5 separate regions of the Homo sapiens genome follow, and all the other regions are reported to be linked to region 4. Evidence: microRNA targets listed by miRTarBase, many of them from high-throughput screens and not tested one by one. Region 4 holds a microRNA gene; each other region holds the end of a gene's coding sequence.

Region 1 (5,101 bases), not on the chromosome of region 4:
CCTGCATGTCTTTCTGCTTCTGGGGTGCGTTCCTGCCCTCTTCAACTATCCCAAGCAATGGACCTACGTTACTTTTCTAACTAACTAGGGGAACAATTATTTATGAAGTAGGGTGAGGGTCTATGAAGCCCAGAGTAGGGACTGCTCATAAGCACCTTCCAATGAGCACCGGGGCTAAGCCTTCCACCCGCGCACTCCGCATCTTCCACCGAGTTCCCAGGTGGAGGAGGAGGAGGAGGAGGAGAAGGAGGAGGAGGGGGAGGGGGAGGGGGAGGGGAGGGGGAGGGGGAGGGAGAGGGGGAGGAGGCGGCGGTGGAAGAGGAAGCAAATGGTGGGGGCGGGGGGCGGAGGGGAGGGCTGCCGCGCTCACGTTTTTAAATTTTATTGTCCTTCCCCAACAGAAACGTGAATGTGACAGTCACTCCGTTGTTGAGCCATTTGTTTAGCTGTAAAAGCAGGATGGCTGTTCTCGCGTCCCGTGCGCGCTGTGCCCCTGTGCCCTTCACATTCTTTCTCATCGCAGGTGTGGTTCCAGAACCGCAGGACCAAGTGGCGGAAGAAGAGCGCCCTGGAGCCCTCGTCCTCCACGCCCCGGGCCCCGGGCGGCGCGGGTGCAGGCGCAGGCGGGGACCGCGCACCCTCGGAGAACGAGGACGACGAGTACAACAAGCCGCTGGACCCCGACTCGGACGACGAGAAGATCCGCCTGCTGCTGCGCAAGCACCGCGCCGCCTTCTCGGTGCTCAGCCTGGGAGCGCACAGCGTCTGACGCCCGCCGTCCAGGCCCGGGATCCTGGCTGCAGCCTGCGGGGGGACGCCGAGGAGCCTACCTTCCCCTCCCCTTCCCCACGCTCCTGGGGGCGCAGGGACTGAGTCTTTCTTTGGATGAGGGGCGCGTGGAGGAGGAGCAGCAGGTGCAGGGGAGGAGGAGGGGAGGCGGGGGAGGAGGAGGAAAAGGAGGGAAAGGGGACAGGCATCCTAGCTAAGGGAGGAGGAGGCCAGGAGGGAGGCACAGCACTCCTGAGACCTGGAAGCCGCTGCCCCTTGCACCTCCTCGGGCCTCGCCTGCCAGTTCTGCAGATTCACAAGTGGACAGAGGACTAAAATGACCAGGCTCTGCAGCCAAGAAACTGGCTGTGGGGTCCCAGACATGCCACTGTGATCCAGCTGTTGGGGCGGGGGGAGTGGGCAGGACTTCCCAGGGAGGGAGGCAGCTGGCTGGGGAGTCAGAAGTCCAGAGTCTTGGGCCCCAAGCCAGCTGCTGGCTGCAGAAGAAAAGACAGGTGAGTGGCCAGGTGCACTCCTCAGACCTGTGCACAGGAAGGGTCCCACTGGAGGGGCCAGAGCTGAGCACCTAACCCAGGCTGCAGGAAATCTGCCTCCAGGAGGGGAAGTGGGACATCCCAGTGGAGAAAAAATGCCCCTGACACTGCAGGATGACGGCCCCTGAGCTGCGGAAATCCCCCTGGCCTCCTTTCTCCGATTTACCCTCAGGGTCAATACCTCTGAGACCGCTGTGCCCTCCTCATCCTGACAGCCGGGGAAAAGGGGAGGGTGCAGGGAGAGGGGAGGCGGGGACGGTGTGCCCAAGGGCCACCCACCTGGGCATCATTTGGTGCTGATATAAGGACAGGCCCACCCAGAGAGAAAAAGCATCCCACCTGGGGAGGAAAGGAAGGGCTGGGAAAGACCCCAGAACGGCACCCCTCCAACAAGGCAGGAAGGGAGAAGGACAGCCCCTCCGGCTGGGTGGAGGATGCCAGGAAGGGGCTGAACCACGGCCTGCTGGGAATCACGGCCCTTCCTTTCCTCAGATCGCCTTGCGGCCTGGCACTGGAGCTGGTGCTGACAGGGACGCTGGCCAACAGGGTGGTATTTTTCACCCGGGTGATCTGAGCTGCTGGCAGGTAGGGGGTGGGCTGGGGGAGGCGGGTGAGGGCTGGTCTTAGATAGGAATGCAGCCCAGAAGGGACCAAGCACTTGCCCATCCTCACTGGCTTTCAAAAAATAAACAGTAAAAATAAAAGTCCCATGAACCTTACGGCTCCTGTGCTTCTGTGAAAGGGACCAACGGCAGGAAACTGGCTGTGAGGTCCCAGACTTGCCAGCTGTGGGGCCTTCCCCGAGGGCCGTTGTCTAGTCTCCTGGGGACATTCGTGCTCTGACAGGTTGCACAATACAAGTTATTTGAAACCTCACTGGTAGATGCCAGACACTGTCCCCAGGTGCTGAGAAACCCAAGGTGAATTTTATGGGGTCCCTGATCTCCAGGAATTTATAGCCTAGTGGGGAAGATGATCTATGTGGAGAATTGGGTATCATAAGAAAAATAAGAAGGGAGAGACTAGAAGAGCTAAGTTTAACAGAACACCTGCTAATTTCTCCCCTGTAGAATGTCTGGATTATCACTGACCCCACAAGAAAACTAGGCAGTAGGTATCATCTTCAATGCATGGAGGAGAAAACCAAAGCTCAGAAAGTTCCTAAACCAAGTCACAGAAGTGGGACGAGGCAACCTCAGAGTAGATCCCAAGGCCCTTTCAGCCACTTCCTTGGGTTGTGAAGGGCACCCTTCGAAGCCTTTTCTGTCAAATGAGAGGCTAGAACCAAAAGTAGTTTAAGGCCCTTCCAACTTCAACAATCTGTGCAACTAGCAACTAGGCTTGACCCCTTTGCTCTCCCAAGAAGTCCATCCTTGGACCCCCAGACCCCCAGGATGGGTGAACCTGGCCCTGGAACCAGCCCGAGAGGGGATGAGGGTGGAGGAAGACCCTAGCTAGGAGCATCTCAGAAAGTAGGGCACCCACCTTTCCTAAGACCCTTAGAGGACCCAGAGGACAGAGAGGAACATGACCAGAAAATGCAGAATGTGTATAAATTTCCACCCTCCATCTGTGAAGATGCCTATGCTCAGGTGTCAGTCTTTTCCCTTGAAAAGCAGAAAGGAGAAAAGAAGGGAATGGAGCACAATCTCTGTGTGCACACTGAGAAGCCGTGCTCTGTCACAAGTGTCCTGAATGGGTCCTACAGTGGCTGCAGCAGGAGAGGACCCTAGAATTCAGCACAGACTTCAAAGATAAAAAGTTTCTGTGGTTCTGGGAGGCTTGTGATTCCTGAGTGCTGCAGGCAGGAAAAGGCTATCACATAGCCCAGGTGCAAAGTCACCAAGCAGGTATGGAGGAAGATGCAAGTGACATAAAAACTGTGTTTACTTATCTTTTTCTGAAGCATGCTGTAATCTTAACTGCTCTGTTGTAGCTATAATTCCTGCATGTCTGATTCAAGTCATTTGAGGTCAGTATGAAATCAAGCCTGGGGAAAGTTTTTCCCAGGAGATATTTGCTGAGCTAAACAAAACCTCCTTTGACCTCAAAGTTCTGGGATACCTGCCACTGGAACCTTTAGCTAAAAGACTACAGCCTTCTGGGCCATTTCCTCTAATCCCACACCACCTTCCATGTGCAGACTGAACATAGGGCCAAGCACAGGAGAGGCACTGCCCCCCATTTCCCTAACAATCATGCTGAAGCATATTCAAAAGACTAGATTTGGAGTTCAAAGGAGGAGAAAACTCATATGTGGAAGACCCAGATTCCCAAGGGTCATTCAAGATAAGTCTGGCCCTCTGCAGATGCACACACATGTGAATGCATGTGCATGCCTGTGTGTGCATACATGTGTGTGTTACTTGGGAGAACACAAGGCTATCTCACTTCATCCATCATAAAGAAATCATAAGCCAGCCAGGCGTGGTGGCTCACACCTGTAATCCCAGCACTTTGGGAGGCCGAAGTGGGTGGATCACTTGAGGCCAGGAGTTCGAGACCAGCCTGGCCAACATGGTGAGAAATGGTGAAACCCTGTCTCTACTAAAAGTACAAAAATTAGCTGGGCGTGGTGGTGAGGGCTTGTAGTCCCAGATACTCAGGAGGTTGAGGTGGGAGAATTGCTTGAACCCGGGAGGTGGAGGTTGCAGTGAGCTGAGATCATGCCACTGCACTCCAGCCTGGGTGACAGAGTGAGACTGTCTCAAAAAAAAAAAAAAAAAAAAAAGAAAGAAAGAAAGAAAGAAAGAAAGAAAGAAAAAGAAAAAAAAATCATAAACTATAGGCCCCACTTTTATCCCTGCTCATAAATAGAACTTATTGTATATTCTGGGTTAAATGAACAAACATACAAAAAGCAAAAGAACTTTGGAAATGCATGCTCCCTGCAGCTCCTCTCTTACCACATCACAAACTTTTCAGAGACAAAAGGAAAGAAATTAAGTCCCACGTCCATGACAGCTGTGGTGTCTGCTCTGACAGGTGGCTCCATGGGCTCCACCAAGTAGGGACGGATTCTGCCATAGCTGTCACCTTTGTGGCTTCTGCTATTAGCAGGACCTGGGATATGTCTTCAGCAGGTCGGGGCGAGGGTGGGTGGATGTCCATGCCTTACCAGGCTCACAGTGGCCATATCCTGATGGTAACAATCAGAAAGTAGACAAAGAGGCCGGGTGTAGTGGCTCATGCCTATAATCCCAGCACTTTGGGGGGCCAAAGTGGGCGGATCAGCTGAGATCAGGAGTTGGAGCCTAGCCTGGGCAACATGGTGAAACCTCGTCTCTACTAAAAATACAAAAATTAGCTGGGCGTGATGGCAGGTGCCTGTAATCCCAGCTACTGGGGAGGCTGAGGTAGAAGAATCACTTGAACCCAGGAGGCGGAGGTTGCAGTGAGCCGAGATGACTCCACTGCACTCCAGCCTGGGCAAAAGAAAGGTGACAAAGGGCTGAAGTCCCACTTCTGGTAACCCCTCCTCATCCTCGGGCCACCCCTAGGTTTTGACCCCAGAAACCAGCTGTCCCCGCAGCATGGGTTAGGGGAAAGGAGTCAGTTAGATATGGGCTCAAACCATAGCTCCACCACTCTCTGTATCATTGGGCCAGTTACTTAACCTCTGAGCCTCGGTTTACTCATCTATAAAATAGGAATAATTCCACACACCTTGCAGGGTTTCTGTGAGATTAGAACTAATGCATGTGCCTGGCATACACAGACAGTAAACAGTAGCCCTGTATTATTCAGAGAAGGCTTTGATGTGAGTGTCAGTGTCCCCT
Region 2 (5,101 bases), not on the chromosome of region 4:
CCACCACGCCAGGCAAATTTTTCTTTTTTTTGAAAGACGGGGTCTCACTATGTTGCCCAGGCTGGTCTCAAACTCCTGGGCTCAAGTGATCCTCCTGCCTCAGCCTCCCAAAGTGCTGGGATTACAGGCATGAGCCCAGTCTGTGGGCAATTTTTAAGCCACCACCAACACCGACACCGCAGGAAGAACAAGCTGTCCCTGGATTTGTTTCCTGGCTGCGCTGCAGTCACACCTCGCAAAGCAGCAGCACGGCAGCCTGACTGCGCTCTGCACGCTGTTACGGTGCCCCGGAGCCCCTTGAGGAGACAAGTGAGACTGTGTTTCCCAGACACCCGCTCCAAGCCCGCGGCAGAGCCAGGTGTGAGGCGTAATGAGCAAGTGAACAACGAGGGGCGGGCAGGAGAGGCCCGGGCGTGGGAATGTGCGCAAGGCAGGACTGAGAGTGAGCACCGCGGGGTGGGGGGCGGAGGGGGCGGGGGAGCTTAAGGAGCGCCCAGGCAAGAGCCCCTACAGCCCTCAGGGCCGAGGTCTCCCACCCTGCCCCCAGTTTGCCCTCCGGCCCCAGCCGGGCGTCTCTGCTGCAGAGAAGGCGCCAACCAGGATTCCTCCAAAGAACCCGGACCCCTTCTTACCTCGGGCGTCTCCTGTCCCCATCCACAGACCAGCAATGGGATCCTCAGCGTCTTCTCCCCGGGGACCAGGCAGATCCGGCACGGCCAAAGGGTCTGCAGACCGCCCCGCGGCCAGCCGGGAGGGAGGGGCGGGCGAGCTCTCCCCGGGAGGCGGGTCCTCCCGCTCCGCGGACCTCCTGACACGGGGCGGGGTGGGCGCGGGGCAGGGGCCGCACTGAGCGGCTCAGCCCGCCACGTCTCCACGCTCTGGGCTCCTGGTCCCAGGAGAGCCCGGCCCCGCCACCCGCTTTAAGACCCCGCTAGTCACCGCGGTTCCCGCCGCAGCGCCCCGGGGCCCAAGGCTGGGCCCGCGTGAGCCCACAGCGCCCCCTGGAGGGAGGGTCCGAGGCCGCTGCTGAAGCCCCGCCTTCCTGAGGTCGGACGCGACCCGGGACCCTCCCGGGCGCCCCAGCCTTCCCCCACAACCCCACAAAGAGGGTTCTGCGGTCCCCTTTGCACACGGAAGGAAACCGAGGCTCAGAAAAGCCAGGCGACTTGACCAAGCCCGACAGCAGAGGTGGGCTGGGGGAGCCGGGGGCTGGAGAGGAGACCCAGGGTGCGGTCAGAGGAGGGGTGGAGTGGGCCGGGGTGGAACCCAGTCCTGGAGGGCAAGGGAGCTAGTCAGCTTCCAACGCCCCCCAACTCCTCCTACGGCCCTTGGCCCCTGTCTGGCCAGCTCCTTCTGGAAGACACTAGCTGTGGGCTTAGCCCTGGATCCACACCCACCCGAAGACAGGACAGTCCGCACCATGTGTGAGCCTCCTCTACCAAGACCATACCATCTCCCGGGCCCAAGGGCACAGTAACTGCCCCGGTGCAGCCTCTCCCTCCCAAATTGTCCCTTGATGCTATATTTTTGCTTTGATGGCAATGTGTTTGTTATGAACTATTTGTGTTCCTCCAAAATTTGCATTTTGAAATCTCAGCCCCCCAAGCTGATGGTATCAGGAGAGGGGGGCCTTTGGGAGATGACAGGTCATGACGGCAGAGCCCTCCTGAATGGGATGAGTGCCTTTAGGAAAGGCACGCTCTCCAGCTGTCAAACCCATGTCATGACATAGTGAGAAGATGGCCCTCTGCAGCCTGGGAGCGGGTCTTCCCCGGAACCTGACCGTGCCTGCACCTGATCTCAGATCTCCAGCCTCCAGAACCATGAGAAATAAACATCTGATGTCTCTATTGCCACTGAGTCTATGGTACTTTGCTATAGCAGTCCAGGATAAGACAGTGTCTGTCATTCAAACCTACAGAAAATCCTACAGAACTTGCCCATCTGCCCATGCCCTGGAGACGAGTACTTGGACTGGAGTGTGCCCGTGCCCACCCTCCAAAGCTGCTCTGTTTTGCAGGTCGGCCTGGGCTGAACTGGGCCAAACAGGAACCAGGAGGCAGATGTCCATGGCAAGAGTGTACCCAGCCCTAGAGGAGGCCGTCTGCTCATCCTTCACCAAAACTCCCCTCAGATCTGCTCAAGGAAGGGGAAATGAGCAGGAGCAGGGGTTCTTCTGAGATGAAATGGGGGTAAGAAAACCCTGCAACCTGGGTGGGAGCAGCACCCTCCCACTGTATCCTCAGGAAACCTCTCTTTCCAGGGGGCAGGGGAGAGGTGCAGCCATCGGTTGTTTAGAGAGAAACCGTGTGTGCTGAAGAAAAGGTAACAGCCCGGCCAACACACCATTAACTGGCTTCAACTCTCCCCAGGGTTGCAGCCTCCTGGGGGACGTTTCACTGAGGGCAGAGCCCAGCCTGTTGAGCAGCACAGGACAGGTACAAGAATTCAGCCTAAACCCATAGCCTCCTCCCACCCACGTGCCAATCCCAGAAAAGTCACTCCAGAAGCAAATCCCCAGGTGGCAGGAGCCAGAAACACTGGTTACAAAGAATACCCAGCCAGTGAGCAGGTGTTTATTAGGGTCCTTTTTCATTACCCCAGAGACAGACCCAGGGCTGGCTACGTGCACAGGAAGTAACGCTTGCCACATGCATAAATACGTGAAGGTGCACATTACATCAGCACAGATTCACAAAACACCTCGCCTTGGCAAGAAAACTGTAGCTAGGCAGCTCCCGTCCTCAGGGACTCCTGCCACAGACGTCATGGAGACAGCATGAGCCTCCCCAGAACAGTCCCCACGGCCTAGACTCCCCAGAGCAGGAGGAGCAGCCCAGGCTCTGTTGCGAGACAGCCATCACTTCCTGTTCTTTGCAGGTGCCTAAGGTAGGTTACCTGGCCAAGGTTTTGGTGGAAAAAATGAGTTTTTTCAATGTTGCAGGTCTTTTAATAGTTCATCTGTAGGAAGTGCATTTGCAAAGTCACCAACCTGCAGCTTCCATCTGTAGACCAGGAAGGGTGATTCTCTGGGTGACCACAGCGGGGCATCCCCTGAGGTACAGACGCCCCCCCCCCAACCCCCGCAGTGTCCTCACAGCCACCACAGCCTTTGCAGTTTGGCTCAAGCAAGCCCTGCCAGGCCCCACCCCTCATGCTGGCTCTGCTGTGAAGCCATCCTCCCGTTGGGCAGCAAGCTCAGGCCCTACACAGAGCCATCTTGAGGCTTGTAAATGAAGCAGGCGTCCCCAGAGCAGGACTCTGCTGTGGCCACCAGCTTCTCCTTCCACACAGCTTCCCCCGCAACACAGCACGGCCACTGACCTCTGGCTTCAAGCAAAGGAGAGGCTGTGAGGGGAGCCTTGGGAGGATGTGGGGACCCCCAGAGAATCTTCTCCCACCCAAACAGAGCAGTCAAGACCAGGAAAACGAGGCCTCCACTTTGTGAACAGAGCTGCCCATGTGGTCACGCGGCGCCTTCGTCCTGAGACACCTGCCCCACACTGAGAAGCAGGGCTGGGTTGACGGTCCACAGCATGATAGTTCATTGCACCGCTGGAGGGAATGGGCCAGGGCCTCTCGCTGGTCTCCTGAAGGGAAATGGGGGTTGGGCCCAGAGTCAAGCTGCAGTCAGGGATGAGGCCTGCACCGTGCAGCACACAGAAAACCTTCAGAGGTGCGGCTGGCCCAGGGCCAGCTCGGGGTCTGCAGCCAGGGACTGCCAGCCCCCACCTGGACACTTTCTCCTGGGGTGGCCCCGGCTGCACAGGTGGAGTCGGAACAGGCAAGTCCTCCAGGTGGCAGCTCCAAGCTCAGGGCAAGTCCCACCCCAAAGAAAAGCTGCCTGCTGCACTTCCCGGGCAGTGCCAAGCCTGTCCAGCTGCCCTGAGGAGACGTCACAGGGCTGAAGGCAGCTGGAGCCCTGCCATGCAAACAGCACACAGCACATGGGGGGCACAGGATGACACAGCTGCTGCTCCTCCTCCGGGTGCCTGCCCACCCAGGGTTCTGCCAACGCAGCAGCAGAGAGGCCAAGAGTCACATGAAGCACGGGGAGGGAGGGGCACGGGCTCCAGTCACGGCCGTCCACCAGCATGTCAGCTGCTTCCAGGTAGGTCCTTGTGTCCCCTCGGCCCTGCACCAGGAGGGCAGCTTTAGTCTGTCTGGGGCCATGGAGGTGGCCCTAATGCTTTGACCTGTCCCATGATGTCACTAGGTCCTCCTCTGGGACCGAGCATCCCTGGCCCACAGGGAAAAGCCCATCCCAGGCTCTGGATGCTCAGGGCCCAGGGTGTGTCCGCCTAGAGAGCAGTGACCTGTGTGAGCTCTGTGTTGGGCGTAGATGGGCTCTGCGGGCTGACAGGCACCATGGGCAGGTCCACGCCTAGTCATGCGGGCCGCGGTACCGTCTCAGAGGTCTTGCAGGCCAGGGCCACGTCCTTGGCAATGCTGCGCACGCGGTCAGACACCTGCACGTCCCGGCGCAGGGCAGATGCACAGCAGAACTTGCGGAAGCAGGCCTTGAAGTTCTCATCCAGGAAGGCGTAGAGGATGGGGTTGAGGCAGCTGTTGACGTAGCCCAGGGCCGTGCAGAAGCGCAGAATGGCCACGGCAGTCTCGCTGCTCGGCTGAACCCCCAGCCCTTGGGCCAGCACGAAGACCTGGACAGGCGTCCAGCAGCCCACGAACACAGCCACTACCACCAGCACCAGCCGAGTGATGCGCCGCAGGTTCCGGTCCTTCTCTCGGGAGCCCGAGAGCAGGCGGACTCCACGGAGCCGCCGGATCATGAGGCTGTAGCAGACAGAGATGACGAGCACGGGGACGATGAAGGAGAAGAGGAAGATGCAGATGGCAAACACCGGGCCCCAGTAATCCTGAGGGGTAGGGATCTCCACCAGGCACTCGATCTCTGCAGGGAGAGAAACGGGGTCAGAGTGGGCCCAGGAGACGTGGAGGGCACGTGGGCCCAGAGGAGCCACCCGGGAGCCAGGGAGCCTGGTGAGGGGAGGAGGGGACACCCCACTGACCTTCATCCTCGACCTGTGCCGAGCCCATGATGGCAACGGGAACACCGACAACAGAGGCCAGGGCCCAGATG
Region 3 (5,087 bases), not on the chromosome of region 4:
AGGAATGGTTTAGAGCTTGCCAGGCTGAACAGTTATGTGTCCGTGTAATCACCGCATTAAAGAATTTGACCTTTTGTAACTCAACATCTCTAGCCACCATTGGTCTGTAAGCCTGAATGTCACCTCTCCTACTTTATTCATCTCTGATATGACCCCAAATTATAAAATGATCTATAAATATAGGTAAGACTTTGCATGTCCTTTCATACTCCACAGTCTCTAGCACAGTGGATCCTGGTTGATCAAACAGGAAGGACCTCGAAGTTAGTCAAATATAAGTGGAAAACCTATTAAGCATTTACAAATAATGTGGCCTTGGGCAAGTAATTTAACTTCAGTTACTCTCCTAACATACTCTATAAAATAAGGCTATTGCCTAATATTCAAGTGAGTTAAGATTAGAGTTAATAAATGAAAAGAGCTGTAAATGTTCATAGCAGTTGTATCACTGCCTAGCATAAGAACCCCTTAAAAACCTGTTTCTTAATTTGGGAAACAGATATGACGATAGTTAGCATTTATTAAAGGATGACAGTTAACAACTGCTATGTGCCAGGCCTTGTTCTAACAGCTTTTCATATTTAGCCCACTTAACATATTTCTATTTTCATATGAGGAAACTGAGGCAGAGAGAGGCTAAGTAACATACCCAAGGTTTTCCAGCTAGAAAATGGCAGAGCCAGGACTCAAACCCAGGCAGTCTGGCTGCTGAGCCCTGGTTCTTAATTATGACATTAATGCTTATTCTGCCCAGTGAGGATAAAATGAGTGAAACATAAAATCAAACAGGATGTTTTGGTAGGGAGCAGTGTTTTTTCCCTCTGAAAAATGAAAAATTAGGTTATTGTGATTTTGTAATTTACAGCAGTGAATATGATGTGAAAAATAAGTTATCCATATAATAATTTATGTCAGGAGTCATGCAGCAGAAAGATTTCTGTCCATCACGTAAACTTTCATCCATTACATAACCCATATGTTTCTGTACCATTAAGACACTTGGTTCAACAAGACCCTTGGAGAATGAGGTTCCTTTTGTTCCCTGGGGTTCTCTTTTTATTTTATTTTTGGATTAATATTTGATAGTAAAGCCAAGGATTTGGGACAGGAAACTTAGATGACATCTAGTTCAAACTCCTTGATTTACATATGAAAAAATTGAGACAGAGGGAAATGAAGATTTCCCCATATCATATAACTGGCTAAAGGGAGCTATGTAGGTAAAACCAAGATGTCCTGATATTCTAGTCTACCAGAAAGTGTTCTTTTTTTCTACCCAACTTATTCCTGATTTAAAGGCTAGTATACGTGTGCTGATCTCCCCTCAGTGGGAGGGGCATGGACGTTGGGAGTAGTCTCTATTCACAACAAATTAAAAATCAGTAATCAGCCGTATAATGGGTTGTGTTAGAAAGTAAACTAAGGCCCAATAAAATATTTAAGAGTTTATTTGAGCAGTGATCCAGAAGTGGCTAGGGAGCTCCCCAGAGAGAACATGAGGAGGAGGCTTTTTAGGACAAATAGATAAAAGCAAAGATAATATTTCATTGGTTACAGTTATACAGTTACACAGTTATACAGTTGCCTTATTTGGTCTATCCCATGAGGAAGTCCTAGTTACTAATTACGTTTTTGTTGGCTGCTTCTGATTGGTTGAGCTTAAGTTCTGTGTTTCTTTAACATAGGCATTTACAAGAAATACCACAAATAAAGTTTCAGACATGCTTGCAAATCAAGCAAGGTTAAGGTCACTTAGGAGGCCCAACTGGCTCTGTCTGCTCAAGGATTCTTCTGGCCTCGTCTCCATTTTACATGAACTGTTGCATAAATAAACACAGAGTACCTGAAACAACGGAGGTGATCATTCTGCCTACCGAGTGTTGGCCAGGCCAAGCTTGGAGTGTTGCTCTTATTCTTAGGGAGTTTATTTTTAAGTAATCTCATCTGTAAATGGGATTACAATCCACAAACTGACCTTGTATATGATTCCATTCCTTCTCCCAGCCCAGCCCCACACTCCAAGGTTTTCCCTTTGCTTATAAGGGGTAGTCACCCTTTTTTATTTCGACCTTCCAAACATTCTGGGAGTTTTCCTCCTTTAGGCCAACTACAGCGCAGAGGAGCGCTTTCTCCTGCTGGGTTTCTCCGACTGGCCTTCCCTGCAGCCGGTCCTCTTCGCCCTTGTCCTCCTGTGCTACCTCCTGACCTTGACGGGCAACTCGGCGCTGGTGCTGCTGGCGGTGCGCGACCCGCGCCTGCACACGCCCATGTACTACTTCCTCTGCCACCTGGCCTTGGTAGACGCGGGCTTCACTACTAGCGTGGTGCCGCCGCTGCTGGCCAACCTGCGCGGACCAGCGCTCTGGCTGCCGCGCAGCCACTGCACGGCCCAGCTGTGCGCATCGCTGGCTCTGGGTTCCGCCGAATGCGTCCTCCTGGCGGTGATGGCTCTGGACCGCGCGGCCGCAGTGTGCCGCCCGCTGCGCTATGCGGGGCTCGTCTCCCCGCGCCTATGTCGCACGCTGGCCAGCGCCTCCTGGCTAAGCGGCCTCACCAACTCGGTTGCGCAAACCGCGCTCCTGGCTGAGCGGCCGCTGTGCGCGCCCCGCCTGCTGGACCACTTCATCTGTGAGCTGCCGGCGTTGCTCAAGCTGGCCTGCGGAGGCGACGGAGACACTACCGAGAACCAGATGTTCGCCGCCCGCGTGGTCATCCTGCTGCTGCCGTTTGCCGTCATCCTGGCCTCCTACGGTGCCGTGGCCCGAGCTGTCTGTTGCATGCGGTTCAGCGGAGGCCGGAGGAGGGCGGTGGGCACGTGTGGGTCCCACCTGACAGCCGTCTGCCTGTTCTACGGCTCGGCCATCTACACCTACCTGCAGCCCGCGCAGCGCTACAACCAGGCACGGGGCAAGTTCGTATCGCTCTTCTACACCGTGGTCACACCTGCTCTCAACCCGCTCATCTACACCCTCAGGAATAAGAAAGTGAAGGGGGCAGCGAGGAGGCTGCTGCGGAGTCTGGGGAGAGGCCAGGCTGGGCAGTGAGTAGTTGGGGAGGGGAGAAAGTATTAAGCCAGAACCCAAGGATGGAAATACCCCTTAGTGAGTCAGTTTAGACTTCAGGCTGTTCATTTTTGTATGATAATCTGCAAGATTTGTCCTAAGGAGTCCAATGGGGGATATGTTTTCCTCCCGTGAGGAAATGTTTAGTTCTTGAGGGAAAATCCCTAAATCCTCTATATACTCAGGTTTAGGGAAGGAAAACCTACCCCTCACAACTCCACGCGCAGGGAAAATGATGGACGTGATGCTCGCCTTTAGCTTCCTCCCTATCTGATGGAAGACCATGGAAGACCTCTTGGTCTCTGCAATCAGAAGTCTCAAGTTGACAAGAAAATCATAGTCCCTACCCTGCAGGAGAGGGTACATCCAGAAAAAGCGACCATGGACTCTATTCTCAGAAATCAGTCCAACTTAGTGCAGACCTGGCCAGATGACCAGTGCCCTCCCCGGGGCATTTCACCCATAAATGTGATGAGGAAAGCCCATAAATGGTGGTGAATTTTGCTGAGTGGGGTTAAGACTGGAAACCCCCCTGCAGGAGTTGGTTCTTGAGCAAGTTTTAAAGAAACAAGGAACTAGGATGAGTGTGGAAGAAGGCGGGCACGTCTCAGCCCGTGAAAAAAACTCACAGGTGATCAGTAGTGAGTCATGAGAGAGAGAGCAAGAGAGAGAGTCAGAGAGAGGAGTAAATGGAGGGAGGAAGATGGAGGAAGGGACTCAAGTTCTCAAGACAGGAACAGGGATCTCCTCATGAAAAAAAGAAGAGAGGAAAATGCTCAATCAGCAGAACCTGAGCAGAATATTGAGGTCAACCCAGAAGCCAGCTCCTCACCCACCCTCACCCAGACTGGCGCCCTCATCCTGGAGAAGACCTGCTAGACCCTAAGGCAGGTAGGAGAGAGGGTGGTCCACAGTCCCCCAGCTTTAGAAAGTTTGTTCGCTCCCAATGTCCATCTACCCCTAGGAATCCCCACTAGTTAAACAGAATTGCTAGATCCCTGTGGAAAATACCTTTCCTTGCCCACCATCATCCCCAGAAATAATAACTATTTTAGTTGGGTGTGAGACATAGAGAATAAAAGGGGGCATGGTGCCAGACTTCATTTCATACAAATAGCTTTAAAGGAGAAGAGGGGGGAAGGAGTTTAATTTAGTTTCTAAAATGTTTAGTAATTTGATTGTGATCATGTCAGAGCAACTAATTCATTTTATAAAATATCATTTCACTATGCTCTATAAGTAGAAATTCAATTTGGTTCAACCATTATTGAGTGATATAAATAAAGCACTGGACTTAACAAAGACAGAAATACAGAAATCAGTAGAACATGGATCCCAACCTAAAACTTACTCTCTTGTCATAAAGGAAAGGAGATAGGAGTTTTTGCATAAATAACAAGGTATCAAGACAGAATTAAATTCCAAGCTGGCTTTGAATGCTCTATTTTGCCTTAAAAATTTATTTACTAGTCTCAGTAATACATTAGTAAAAATCATGTCACTTAATTAATTGTGTTAGAATCAAAGAAACATAGAGTTGGGCAATATACTTCATCCTACCCATCCCACCCAAATCTTACTCTACTCATCTCATTCTCATTAATTTTGGGAAATCATCAGAAGATGTGTTCGTTGAGTAAGAGATTAAAAGAAATAAGCTTTTTGACCCCTGCCAACACCCCATGCCCAGGGTGGTCACCCTCCAATACAATAACATGCCAGGAAGAGTAAGTTGCCCTTTCTGATGCCGTAATCTGCCATCATCTTCCCATCTTCCAGTCTCTTTCCATTGCAAGTCACAATCTGGGTCTCAGGGATTATACCCGTCTTAGTCTCGATCATTGCTTTCACTTGTGCCACTGAGCTGGACCTTCGCACCTGGAGGAGGTGCCTCTTTGCCTCATCACCTGACTCCACAAGAAACAAGGGCAGCTCCTCATCACTGGGCTTCACCACTTTCAGGGTAAGGTGGATGGTCTTCTCTTTGTCAATGCCATAAGATGAGAGGCTTCTCCGTGGCTTTAA
Region 4 (5,101 bases):
AACAGAGCGAGACTCTGTCTCAAAAAAAAAAAAAAAAGAATTTCAGGTGGGACACGGTGGCTCACACCTGTAATCCTAACACTTTGGGAGGCCAAGGCAGGAGGATTTGTTGAGCCCAGGAGTTCGAGACCAGCCTAGACAACAAACTGAGACCCCATCTCTACAAAAAAGATAATTGGGATTACAGGTGCCCATCACCACACCCGGCTAATTTTTGTATTTTTAGTAGAGACGGGGTTTCACCATGTTAGTCAGGCTGGTCTTGAACTCCTGACCTCAGATGATCCACCTGCCTCGGCCTCCCAAAGTGCTGGGATTACAGGCGTGAGACACCACACCCAGCCTCAGATGATTTTTTTTTTTTTTTTTTTGAGACAGGGTCTTGTTTTGTCACCCAGGCTGGAGTACAGTGGTGCAATCATGGCTTACTGCAGCTTCACCCTCCCGGGCTCAAGCAATCCTCCTGCCTCAGCTACCTGAGTAGCTGGGACCACAGGCGTGTGCCACCACGCCCAGCTATTCTTTTTTTTGTGTGTGTAGAGACCCTATAGGGCACAATGTTGCCCAGGCTGGTCTCGAACTCCTGGGCTCAAGTGATCCTCTCTCCTTCCCTCCCAAGGTGCTGGGATTACAGGTGTGAGCCACTGTACCCAACCTTCTTCAGATGATTAGGATGCATGCTAAAGTCTGACCACCACTGTTCTTTCTGAAATATTTTTTCTACCTCATTTCAGCCTCCTAATTCCTACTCCTTCTTCCCTGCAAATGTCACTTCATCAGAGGTGCTAGACCCTGGGCTAGATTAAACCCCTCACTCTCCAAGTCTCTCTTTTTTTTTAGACAGAGTCTCACTCTTTGGCCTGGGCTGCAGTGCAGTGGTGCGATGCCCAATTCTCCTGCCTCAGCCTCCTGAGTAGCTGGGACTACAAGCGTGTGCCACCACACCCGACTAAGTTTTGTATTTTTAGTAGAGACAGGGTTTCGCCATGTTAGTCAGGCTGGTCTCGAACTCCTGACCTCAGGTGATCCGCCCACCTCGGCCTCCCAAAGTTCTGGGATTACAGGTGTGAGCCACTGCGCCTGGCCTCTCCAATTTTCTTCTGTGAGTTCCTCAGTTCATGTCTCCCTGATAGATTTTGAGTTCTAGGTGTGTCCGTCTCATTCTCCATCTTGTCCTGAGTGCTAAGCAGGGCAAACAGTAGGCACATAATAAGTGAGAGTGGAATTGCATTGGCTCACAGGGTCACCAAAGGAATGGAGATGTGGGGCCTGCAGGCATCACGAAGGAGTCTAGGGGAGCTAGGGAGAAAAGGCTAATCATAGGCCACCCACTCGCCCTCTAGGTACAGCCTGTACACCCGCACCTGGCTCGGGTACCTCTTCTACCGACAGCAGCTGCGCAGGGCTCGGAATCGCTACCCTAAAGGCCACTCGAAAACCCAGCCCCGCCTCTTCAATGGTGAGCTCTGACTGCCCCGGCCAGCATCCCCCATTCTGTGCCCCCACCCTCCCCGCCTGCTCCCCTTCACATACCCCAGCCCCTGGGCTCCCTGCCTGTTACCCCGCCCACAGCCCATCTCTGTCCCCAGGAGTGAAGGTGCTTCCCATCCCTGTCCTCTCGGACAACTACAGCTACCTCATCATCGACACCCAGGCCCAGCTGGCTGTGGCTGTGGACCCTTCAGACCCTCGGGCTGTGCAGGTGAGGGGAGGGCAGGGAGCAGGGGGTGCCTGGAGTCACCTTGGGGACTGGCAGTTTCGCCTTGCTAGAGAGGGCTGACCCTTGTCCGTCTGCCCGTGGGATGTGTCCCATATGCTCCATGTTCACACGTGCACATGCGCACACATAGCCTGGGGAAGGGGGGTACAGGGCATGGCTGGGCAGAAGGGGAGAGCAGGAGTGGGGGATGCAGAGCCAGAGGGCTGGGGGTGTTGGCCCAGGACTCTGGGTCTAGTGAGTTTCCAGGCTGGCTTTCACTCCCATTGGCCCCCTTCAGACCCCCTTTCTTTCTGTCACCTCTGTCTGTCAGTATCTGGGTCTCTCTGTCTTTCCCTCCCATTCCTTATCTCTCTGTGTCTGCCTCTCTCTATGTACAAGTGTCCCTCTGCCTCCATGTGCCCCGTGCTTCACATTCCTGGATCTCTCCCCTCCAGCTCCATCCCTTTCCTCTGCTTCATCTCTCCATGCTCTCCTCTCCTCTCCACCAGCGCCCACACTCCTGGCTCTTGCTGCTTCAAGTGCCTCTTGCATCCTGCTCCCCAGTCTCCAAACCTCCTCTCTCTCGCAGGCTTCCATTGAAAAGGAAGGGGTCACCTTGGTCGCCATTCTGTGTACTCACAAGCACTGGTAAGGGGCTCCCGTCTTCCCTGGCCCACCCTTGTCCCAGCTGGGCTTGCCAGGACTGGGCCCATTGAGGACGGCCGGGGCCAGAGATCAAGAAGTCAGTACGGGCCGGCACCCGCCTTCCTCGTGAAGTCACCTGGACACCAGCAGGGAGGGAGGAGAGGGGACAGTCTCCCACCACTCCATTGATCAAGCTTCTGAAGCCCCAGAGGGCAGGGCAGTCATTTCTCTTTCATTTCATGGGCATGTATTAGATACCTACTGCACACTGGGCATGGACAAAAGTTATGACTCTTCCATCAAGGAAATTCTAAGACCAATAGGGGAGGTAGCCCTGTATCAAAGTATATAACAGCGGAGGCAAGAGGGTTGGGAGTTCAAGCCCAACCTGGGCAACATAGTGAGACCTTGTCTTCAAAAAAGAAGTATGTGATATTTAGGTAACAGTTGGCACAGGGAACAGGGATGGGAGGCCCAGGCACGGTGTGATCAGATCCACTTGGAGAATTGAAAGATGATGACCTGAGCTGAGGGTTCAGGAAGCTCGGCTGGCATTGGCCAGCTTGAGTTGTTGGGGGCGATGTTCTGGGCAAGGGAACAGCTTGAACAAAGGCCTAGAGGTGTGGACAACTTGGCTTAGTCCAGAAGCCACAGCCCCAGCACTTAAAGGCCTGGAGATGCTGTGGTAAAGAAGGGGGCTTAGGTACAGTTGCCCCTCGAAGCCCCCTGCCTGTCTCTGCTGTCCTGCAGGGACCACAGTGGAGGGAACCGTGACCTCAGCCGGCGGCACCGGGACTGTCGGGTGTACGGGAGCCCTCAGGACGGCATCCCCTACCTCACCCAGTAAGTCCCTGACCTAGGCAAGGGATGGCCCTTCCATGGGCCCTTTCCCCCACCCCCAGCCTTCAGTGAAGTGTTTCAGGGGTATCAGCAGGTGGATCTTTGCCAGTGCCCTTCCTGGCCCAATCCCAGCCTATCTGAAGACTGGCACTGCCCATCCCCCAACTGATCCAGCCATAGTCCCCAAAAGAGGAAAGGGGGAGGGTTCGGACCTGAGACCCGAGGCACTGGGGTGACTTCTTTTGTATGGAAGCCCACTCTCTTGTGAATCACCCAGCCCCTTGGGCCTGGGATGGGGACAGGGATCAGCATGGCACAGATCCAATACCTTCTGTCCCCTGCTCCCTTGTTCCCCAGTCCCCTGTGTCATCAAGATGTGGTCAGCGTGGGACGGCTTCAGATCCGGGCCCTGGCTACACCTGGCCACACACAAGGCCATCTGGTCTACCTACTGGATGGGGAGCCCTACAAGGGTCCCTCCTGCCTCTTCTCAGGGGACCTGCTCTTCCTCTCTGGCTGTGGTGAGTTTCCCCGAAAGAGAGAGGAGCTGGGAGAGGAGGGAGAGACAGAAGCCAGGGCAGCCACAGTCCCATGGAGAGCACTGAAGCCTTAGTTTTAGCACAGATGTTGCCGTGGCAGTTACTTCCATCTGTGTTACTCAGATTGGTTTTAATCCTTGAGACTTCCCTTGGGGCACCTTGGGAGGCTGAGGCAGGAGGATCACTTGAGGCTAGGAGTTGGAGACCAGACTGGGCAAAATAGCAAGACTGTCTCTACAAAAAAATTTTAAAATAGGCCAGGCGTGGTGGCTCATGCCTGTAATCCCAGCACTTTGGGAGGCTGAGGTGGGAGGATCACCTGAGGTCAGGAGTTCAAGACCAGCCTGGTCAACATGGTGAAACCCCGTCTCTACTAAAAATACAGAAATTAGCCGGGCATGGTGGTGCATGCCTGTAATCCCAGCTACTAGGGAGGCTGAGACAGGAGAACTGCTTGAACCCGAGAGGTAGAGGTTGCAGCGAGCTGAGATCGCGCCACTGCACTCCAACCTGGAAGACAGAGTGAGACTCTGTCACAAAACAGAAAAAAAAATTTAAATAATATAAATAATATAGGCCAGGAGCAGTGACTCAGGCCTGTAATCCCAGAACTCTGGGAGGCCAAAGCAAGTGGATTGCTTGAGCCCAGGAGTTCAAGACCAGCTTGGGCAACATGGTGAAACCCCGTCTCTACAAAAAATACAAAAATTAGCCAGTGTGGTGGTGAGCCCAGGAATTCAAGGTTGCAGTGAGCTATGATTGTGCCACTGCACTGCAGCCTGGGCAACAATGAGACTCTGTCTCAAAAATAAAAAAGACTTCTGCCAGCTGCGGGACAGAATGGGAGAATGTCTGTAGCTGAGTAAAGCCCTGCAGGGAATTAGTTTCCCCTGGGTGGAGACTGGTTCTCTGATACAGTGACTGGCAGGACTAGGTTATGAAAAGTTAAGAACAGCTAGGTGAGTGGGTGGGTGAGGATCACAAGTCCCAGGCTGCATGAAATCCCAAAGGGCAGCCTAGGCGAAGAAGTGTTCCGTGGGAAAGAGCAGCCCTGCGTCTACCAAGCCTGGGGCCTGCAGCCCGAAGATTCCACAGCCCCTCCCTTCAGGTGTCACTGTGTGCAACGGAGGCCTCGGATGGGCTTGGTCAGGGGGTGACCAGTTGGGCCCAGTTCCCAGTGAGGAGGGAATAGATGCCTGGGGTGGGTCTGGAAAGTGCACAGTCAGGGCTGACGGCCAGCCAGAGCATTACAAGCTGGTTCCCACCTGTCTGGGTGTGCCTTATGCCATATTGTGTTATCCTGGCACCTTGTGACATACCCTCCAACCCCCACCCAGGGCGGACCTTTGAGGGCAATGCAGAGACCATGCTGAGCTCA
Region 5 (5,101 bases), not on the chromosome of region 4:
ATGGCAGTTGTTTCTGCACCCATCCCTAATTCCTCACATTCCTTGTTTTCACACCTTGGCTAGATGTTACTCATTTCATAAAAGTGATGCGCATTCTTGTAATTTTGCTTTGTTTTTTACAGACAGGGTCTCACTTTGTTGCCCAGGATGGAGTGCAGGGGCATGATCATAGCTCACTGTAGCCTTGAACTACTGGACTCAAGCTAACCTCCTGCCTCAGCCTCCTCAGTAGGTGGGACTACCGGCACTTGCCACTACACCTGGCTGATCTTTTTTTTGAGATGGAGGCTTGTTCTGTCGCCCAGCCTGGAGTGCAGTGGTGCAATCTTGGCTCACTGCAACTGCCACCTCCTAGGTTCAAGCAATTCTTCTGCCTCAGCCTCCCGAGTAGATGGGATTACAGGCACGTGCCACCACACCTGGCTGACTTTTGTATTTTTAGTAGAGACGGGGTTTCACCATGTTAGCCACACTGGTCTTGAAATCCTGACCTCAAGTGATCTGCCCACCTCGGCCTCCCAAAGTGCTGGGATTACAGGCATGAGCCACGGCGCCTGACCACACCTGGCTAATCTTTTTAAAAAGTTTTTGTACAGACAGGGTCTCCCTATATTGGTCAGGCTTGTCTCGAACTCCTGGGTTCCAGCAATCCTCCAGCCTCAGCCTTCCCAAGTGCTGGTATTACATGGATGAGCCACTGCACCTGGCTAATTTTACTTTAAAGGAATCTTTCTACTATTTTATCATTAAGTATGACATTTGTGTTTTCAGAACATATATTCCCTACCAAGTTACAGGAGTTAATTTTAATTCCCAACTTAATAGTATTTTAGTGTCATCTATGGGTGTTAAATTCCATCAAGTGATTTATCAGCATATACTGAGATAATCCTTATGAGTTTTATCTGGTAGTTAATTAAAATATTTTCTAATATTAAATCTTCCAAACATACTCTTCTGTTTTTTGAGACAGGGTCTAGTTCTGTCACCCAGGGTGGAGTACAGTGGTACGATCTCAGCTCACTGCAACTTCCGCCTCCTAGATTCAAGTGATTCTCCCGTCCCAGCCTCCCAAGTAGCTGGGATTATAGGTGTCAGTTACCATGCCCTGCTATTTTTTTGTATTTTTAGTAGAGAGGGGTTTCACCATGTTGGCCAGGCTGGTCTCAAACTCCTGACCTCAGGTGATCCACCATCTCAGCCTCCTGAAGTGCTGGGATTATAGGTGTGAGCCACCGTGCCTGGCCCCATATATCTCTTTTTAAGTGGGCATACTGCCATTATAAATAATAGTGATTCTGCTGGTAATGAACAAAGGATGCTGGATCCACTAATAGTCTGTTAAACCTAATATCATGACTTTCTTGTTAGCTATACATTGGTTTGCTATAATTCCATTTAGAATTTTTAAACCTATGTTCACAAATATGGATTTTTAAACCTATGTTCACAAATATGGATTTTTAAACCTATGTTCACAAATATGGTTTGCAAGTCATTTTTTCTCCTAAATTTCTATTTGATGGGGAAGTTGTAAAATATTGGGGTTATTTTTCCTTGGATTTTCCTTATAATAACTATTCCTGAAAAGTCTCTGGAATGTCTTTCTTTTCTGGGGCTGGGGTAGAAGGACTAGATAGATTTACAAACCAGTAACTCAATTTCTGTTTTGTAAAATTTTCATTTCATTAAATAATAAGTCCTAATCAAGTATTATTCTTTCCCACAGTATGTGAGTGCTGTCCTCAATACTGTCAACACTTCTGGCTTCTACCAGGCAAGGCTGCATGTAGATTTGCATCTGAAAAAACAACAAACTAAAATCTAACCCTAGGTAGTAGTAAACTGAATATAAACTTTCTCTTATGAATTTATTCTGTCTTCTTTGGTACATCAATAATAATATACACCTTTACAGTATTTCCCAGATTGGGGGATACACTTTAGCAAGTATCTGCGATTATTTGTTTATGTAAGATGTCCCTTCCCTTCTGTGAATCATCATTCTTCACCCCAAGTATCTTGAGATTGGATTCTGTATAAGCAGAATACAACAGTTAGGCATTCAGGTATCATTAAATTCCTCCGCTTCAAGGATGAAAATTTCTTTGGGTATCTAATAGAGTACAAAGCAGAAGGTGTTTCAGAAATATTTGCAGTATTGAATCCGCATATTCCTCCAAGATAGCCCTAATCTAACTGGCAGGGTCCCACTCTTCCCAGATTAATGCCCACTCACATAACAAACCTGATGAGGTAGTGAAGAAAACTAACTTTGTGAGTAAGCAACTGGCAGAGTTTTTCACCACTGTGACTCTATAGCTACATGTAACTAAGTAGTATCACTGACACATAATCTTAAATTGAAGTTTTAAGATCATTATTCTCCATGTTATACATGGGTATCAAAAGCATTCCCCTCTTGACCACTCCAGAATTCTGTTTAAAATTTTTCAATGACAACTTATCCATTTCCCCAAAGCCTCAGTGAGCACATGATGCCAACAATTCATTTCATGACTTCATAGCATGGGCCAAGTTTCTTGCTTAAAAGACTTCCATCCTGTCTTGGGAAACAACCATTTCCAAATATCCACATATCCTTGCAAGTTTCTGCCTACTCCTCTACCACCCATTTCTGAAGCCATCTGATTTAGTAAGCTGTATGCAAAAGATACACAATGGCTAATGCAATCAAACAAGGAATGTATTAAAAGCACACCCAATAGCTCAAAATAAAAGACAAGTGAACAAAGTTAAGAAAATGACAGTAACAAAAGCTGTTCTGGGAACCTCTATTGAAATAGCTACTTATTACATCAACATGCTACCACAGAACAAAAGCTCATGTTGCTTTTCTGAACTTGAAAAACCCATTAACAATGTACAGTTCTGAGCCTCAGCTGACCATAGTGCTCATGCCAAGTCCTGAGCAGGGCATCTTGAATGGTGGTTCCCTCATGACTACATACACCGTTAGGGAATGTTTCGTTAAGAGGAAATCAAGATGTTCTAACCTGTGAAGGTAGAATAGATTCCAGGCTACACAAACACATGAAGTGTGCCTTATATTGATTACTAAAGAGGTTGCTGCCAAGACTGCTTCCAAAGGGCAGAAGATAGCCCTAAAAAATGTTTGCAGTGTGGAAATGCATTTTTAGTAAGTCATATTCTAGTAACAAGTTGCATTTGGTAAGACACAAAGAAACAATGTTGGTATGCAGAGTAGAAATCTCTGGAAGATGATATTGTCATATCAGAGATATTGTCAGTATCAGAGATACTGAAATCTCTGGAAGATGATTTTTGTCTCACATATGGCATTCGCAAGTAAAATGCCAAACTGCAAAATTCATATTATGTAGTACACATAGGAAGATATCTAAATATCCCTGTAGGCTCTGGGATGTTATTTCTTATTCTTAACCTCCTTACTAGATTCACTTGTACAATGAAATAATCTGTATCTTATTATTTATAATTGAGAATTTTCTCAAACCTTTTCCTGAAATTTTGGAACACCTGGAATAAAATTTCTTAAAATGATTCCTAAAAGAAATAATTCTTCAAAATTAATATTAAGATATAATAACAGGTTGGTTTTTTTTTTTTTTTTTTTTTTTTTTTTTAGAATGAAGCTTCTAAGGTGAGGTTAACAGTCCAGCTGTGGTTTATTTGGTACATTCATAAGATGTTCACTCCTATATATATTTTTTCCCTAGGGGTTTCTCATTTCTAGATTTACACTTTCCCTTATAGCATGGTCCCTCCAAGGTATATGCTTCCGATACATAAAATGTTTGTAATTTTGTTAATTCTGCCATTCATTAGCTCAATAATTTCTCTCATTAAAATTCTGTAAACTATGAATTTCAAAGAAGTCTATTCTATATTCATCTGGTTCATGAAGTTTCCTCTTTGTGAATCTTATTTTAGTAAAATGACTTTACAACGTTTAACATGGTTCCTCACCTGTATGAACTTTTTAAAAAAAGGTATGACTTGCTGCTAAAAATTTTCAGAGTGGTTACTAAATTCAGTTTTCCTGTGTATTGTCTACTATCTTTTTGCATGTAAAGAACAGCTTTCTGTGGATGCCTTTCCATATGCTGTGCATTCATAAAGTTTCTATTCAGTATGAGTTTTCTGGAAGATGACAAGATGATTCCACTTACAGAGTTTCTCTTTATATATGATTGTTTCTATCTCTTGTGAATCCACTTTTCAGAGTTTCGTAAAATTATCAATGTTTGTCATCTACATGAGTTCTCTGATGCATAATGAGCTGTGACTTCCAACAAAAGGCTTTCCCACATTCAGTGCACTTACAAGGCTTCTCTCCTGTATGTGTTCTCTGATGTGCACTGAGAATTGATTTTTGAGAGAAGGTTTTCCCACATTCATTGCACCCATAGGGTTTCTCTCCTGAATGAGTTCTTTGATGTACAATGAGTTGAGAATTCCTAATGAAGGCTTTTCCACACTCACTGCATTCATATGGTTTCTCTCTTGTGTGCATTCTCTGGTGTACAAGAAGGCGTAATTTCCCACTGAAGGATTTCTCACATTGACTGCATTTATAAGGGTTGACCCCTGCATGAGTTCGCTCATGTACAATGAGTAGTGATTTCCAAATGAAGGCTTTCCCACATTCATTACATTCATATGGTTTTTCACCTGAATGAGTTCTCATGTGTATAATTAGGTATGACTTGCTGCTAAAAGCTTTCCCACATTCACTGCACCCATAAGGCTTTTCCCCTGCATGAGTTCGCTGATGTGAAATGAGCTGGTCTTTCCTATTAAAGGCTTTCCCACATTCACTGCATTCATAGGGATTTTCTCCTGTGTGAATTCTCTGATGCACAATGAGTTGTGAATTGAAACTAAAGGATTTCCCGCATTCCCTGCACTCATGTGGTTTCTCTCCTGTATGAGTTCTCATATGTATAATAAGGTATGACTTGCTCCTGAAGGCTTTCCCACACTCACTGCATCCATATGGTTTTACTCCTGTGTGACTTCTCTGATGTACAATGAGCTGGGACTTCAAACTAAAGGTTTTTGCACATTGACTGCATCCATAGGGTTTTACTCCAGT

Evidence for each region. Region 4 holds the annotated microRNA hsa-miR-6810-3p (UCCCCUGCUCCCUUGUUCCCCAG, at 3,519-3,541, shown strand). A microRNA usually pairs through its seed, bases 2 to 8, with sites in the 3' UTR of a target mRNA and lowers its output. Matches are read on the target gene's strand: a 7mer-m8 pairs with bases 2 to 8, a 7mer-A1 pairs with bases 2 to 7 and ends in A, and an 8mer does both.
Region 1: miRTarBase lists NKX6-3 as a target of hsa-miR-6810-3p. Seed matches in the 3' UTR shown: 8mer at 917-924.
Region 2: miRTarBase lists OPRL1 as a target of hsa-miR-6810-3p. Seed matches in the 3' UTR shown: 7mer-A1 at 3,051-3,057.
Region 3: miRTarBase lists UBD as a target of hsa-miR-6810-3p. Seed matches in the 3' UTR shown: 7mer-m8 at 4,729-4,735.
Region 5: miRTarBase lists ZNF268 as a target of hsa-miR-6810-3p. The part of its 3' UTR that is shown has no 7-base or 8-base seed match.

Annotation. Positions count from the first base shown.
Region 1 is chr8:41,642,117-41,647,217 of GRCh38, reverse strand. NKX6-3 (NK6 homeobox 3) reads left to right here. Exons shown (of 3, transcript NM_001364841.2): 3 at 524-2,041. The coding sequence ends at 769. Among named protein-coding and RNA genes, the nearest start is that of NKX6-3, 6.2 kb to the left of the region's middle. RefSeq lists a silencer at 429-658 and an enhancer at 1,973-2,032.
Region 2 is chr20:64,098,087-64,103,187 of GRCh38, reverse strand. OPRL1 (opioid related nociceptin receptor 1) reads right to left here. Exons shown (of 5, transcript NM_182647.4): 4 at 5,031-5,101; 5 at 2,555-4,912. The coding sequence ends at 4,389. Among named protein-coding and RNA genes, the nearest start is that of NPBWR2, 6.9 kb to the left of the region's middle. RefSeq lists an enhancer at 1,257-1,758.
Region 3 is chr6:29,551,123-29,556,209 of GRCh38, forward strand. UBD (ubiquitin like modifier D) reads right to left here. Exons shown (of 2, transcript NM_006398.4): 2 at 4,393-5,087. The coding sequence ends at 4,758. It overlaps OR2I1 (olfactory receptor family 2 subfamily I member 1 (gene/pseudogene)), which reads left to right. Exons shown (of 2, transcript NM_001396058.1): 2 at 2,103-5,087. The coding sequence ends at 3,044. Among named protein-coding and RNA genes, the nearest start is that of OR2I1, 3.3 kb to the left of the region's middle.
Region 4 is chr2:218,338,440-218,343,540 of GRCh38, forward strand. MIR6810 (microRNA 6810) reads left to right here and starts at 3,472; the gene lies at 3,472-3,541. PNKD (PNKD metallo-beta-lactamase domain containing) reads left to right here. Exons shown (of 10, transcript NM_015488.5): 3 at 1,344-1,459; 4 at 1,590-1,702; 5 at 2,289-2,347; 6 at 3,095-3,187; 7 at 3,542-3,705; 8 at 5,061-5,101. The region is part of intron 2 of CATIP-AS2 (CATIP antisense RNA 2); the gene reads right to left. RefSeq lists an enhancer at 5,079-5,101.
Region 5 is chr12:133,203,673-133,208,773 of GRCh38, reverse strand. It overlaps ZNF268 (zinc finger protein 268), which reads right to left. Exons shown (of 6, transcript NM_003415.3): 6 at 1-5,101. The coding sequence ends at 4,244. Among named protein-coding and RNA genes, the nearest start is that of ZNF268, 25 kb to the right of the region's middle.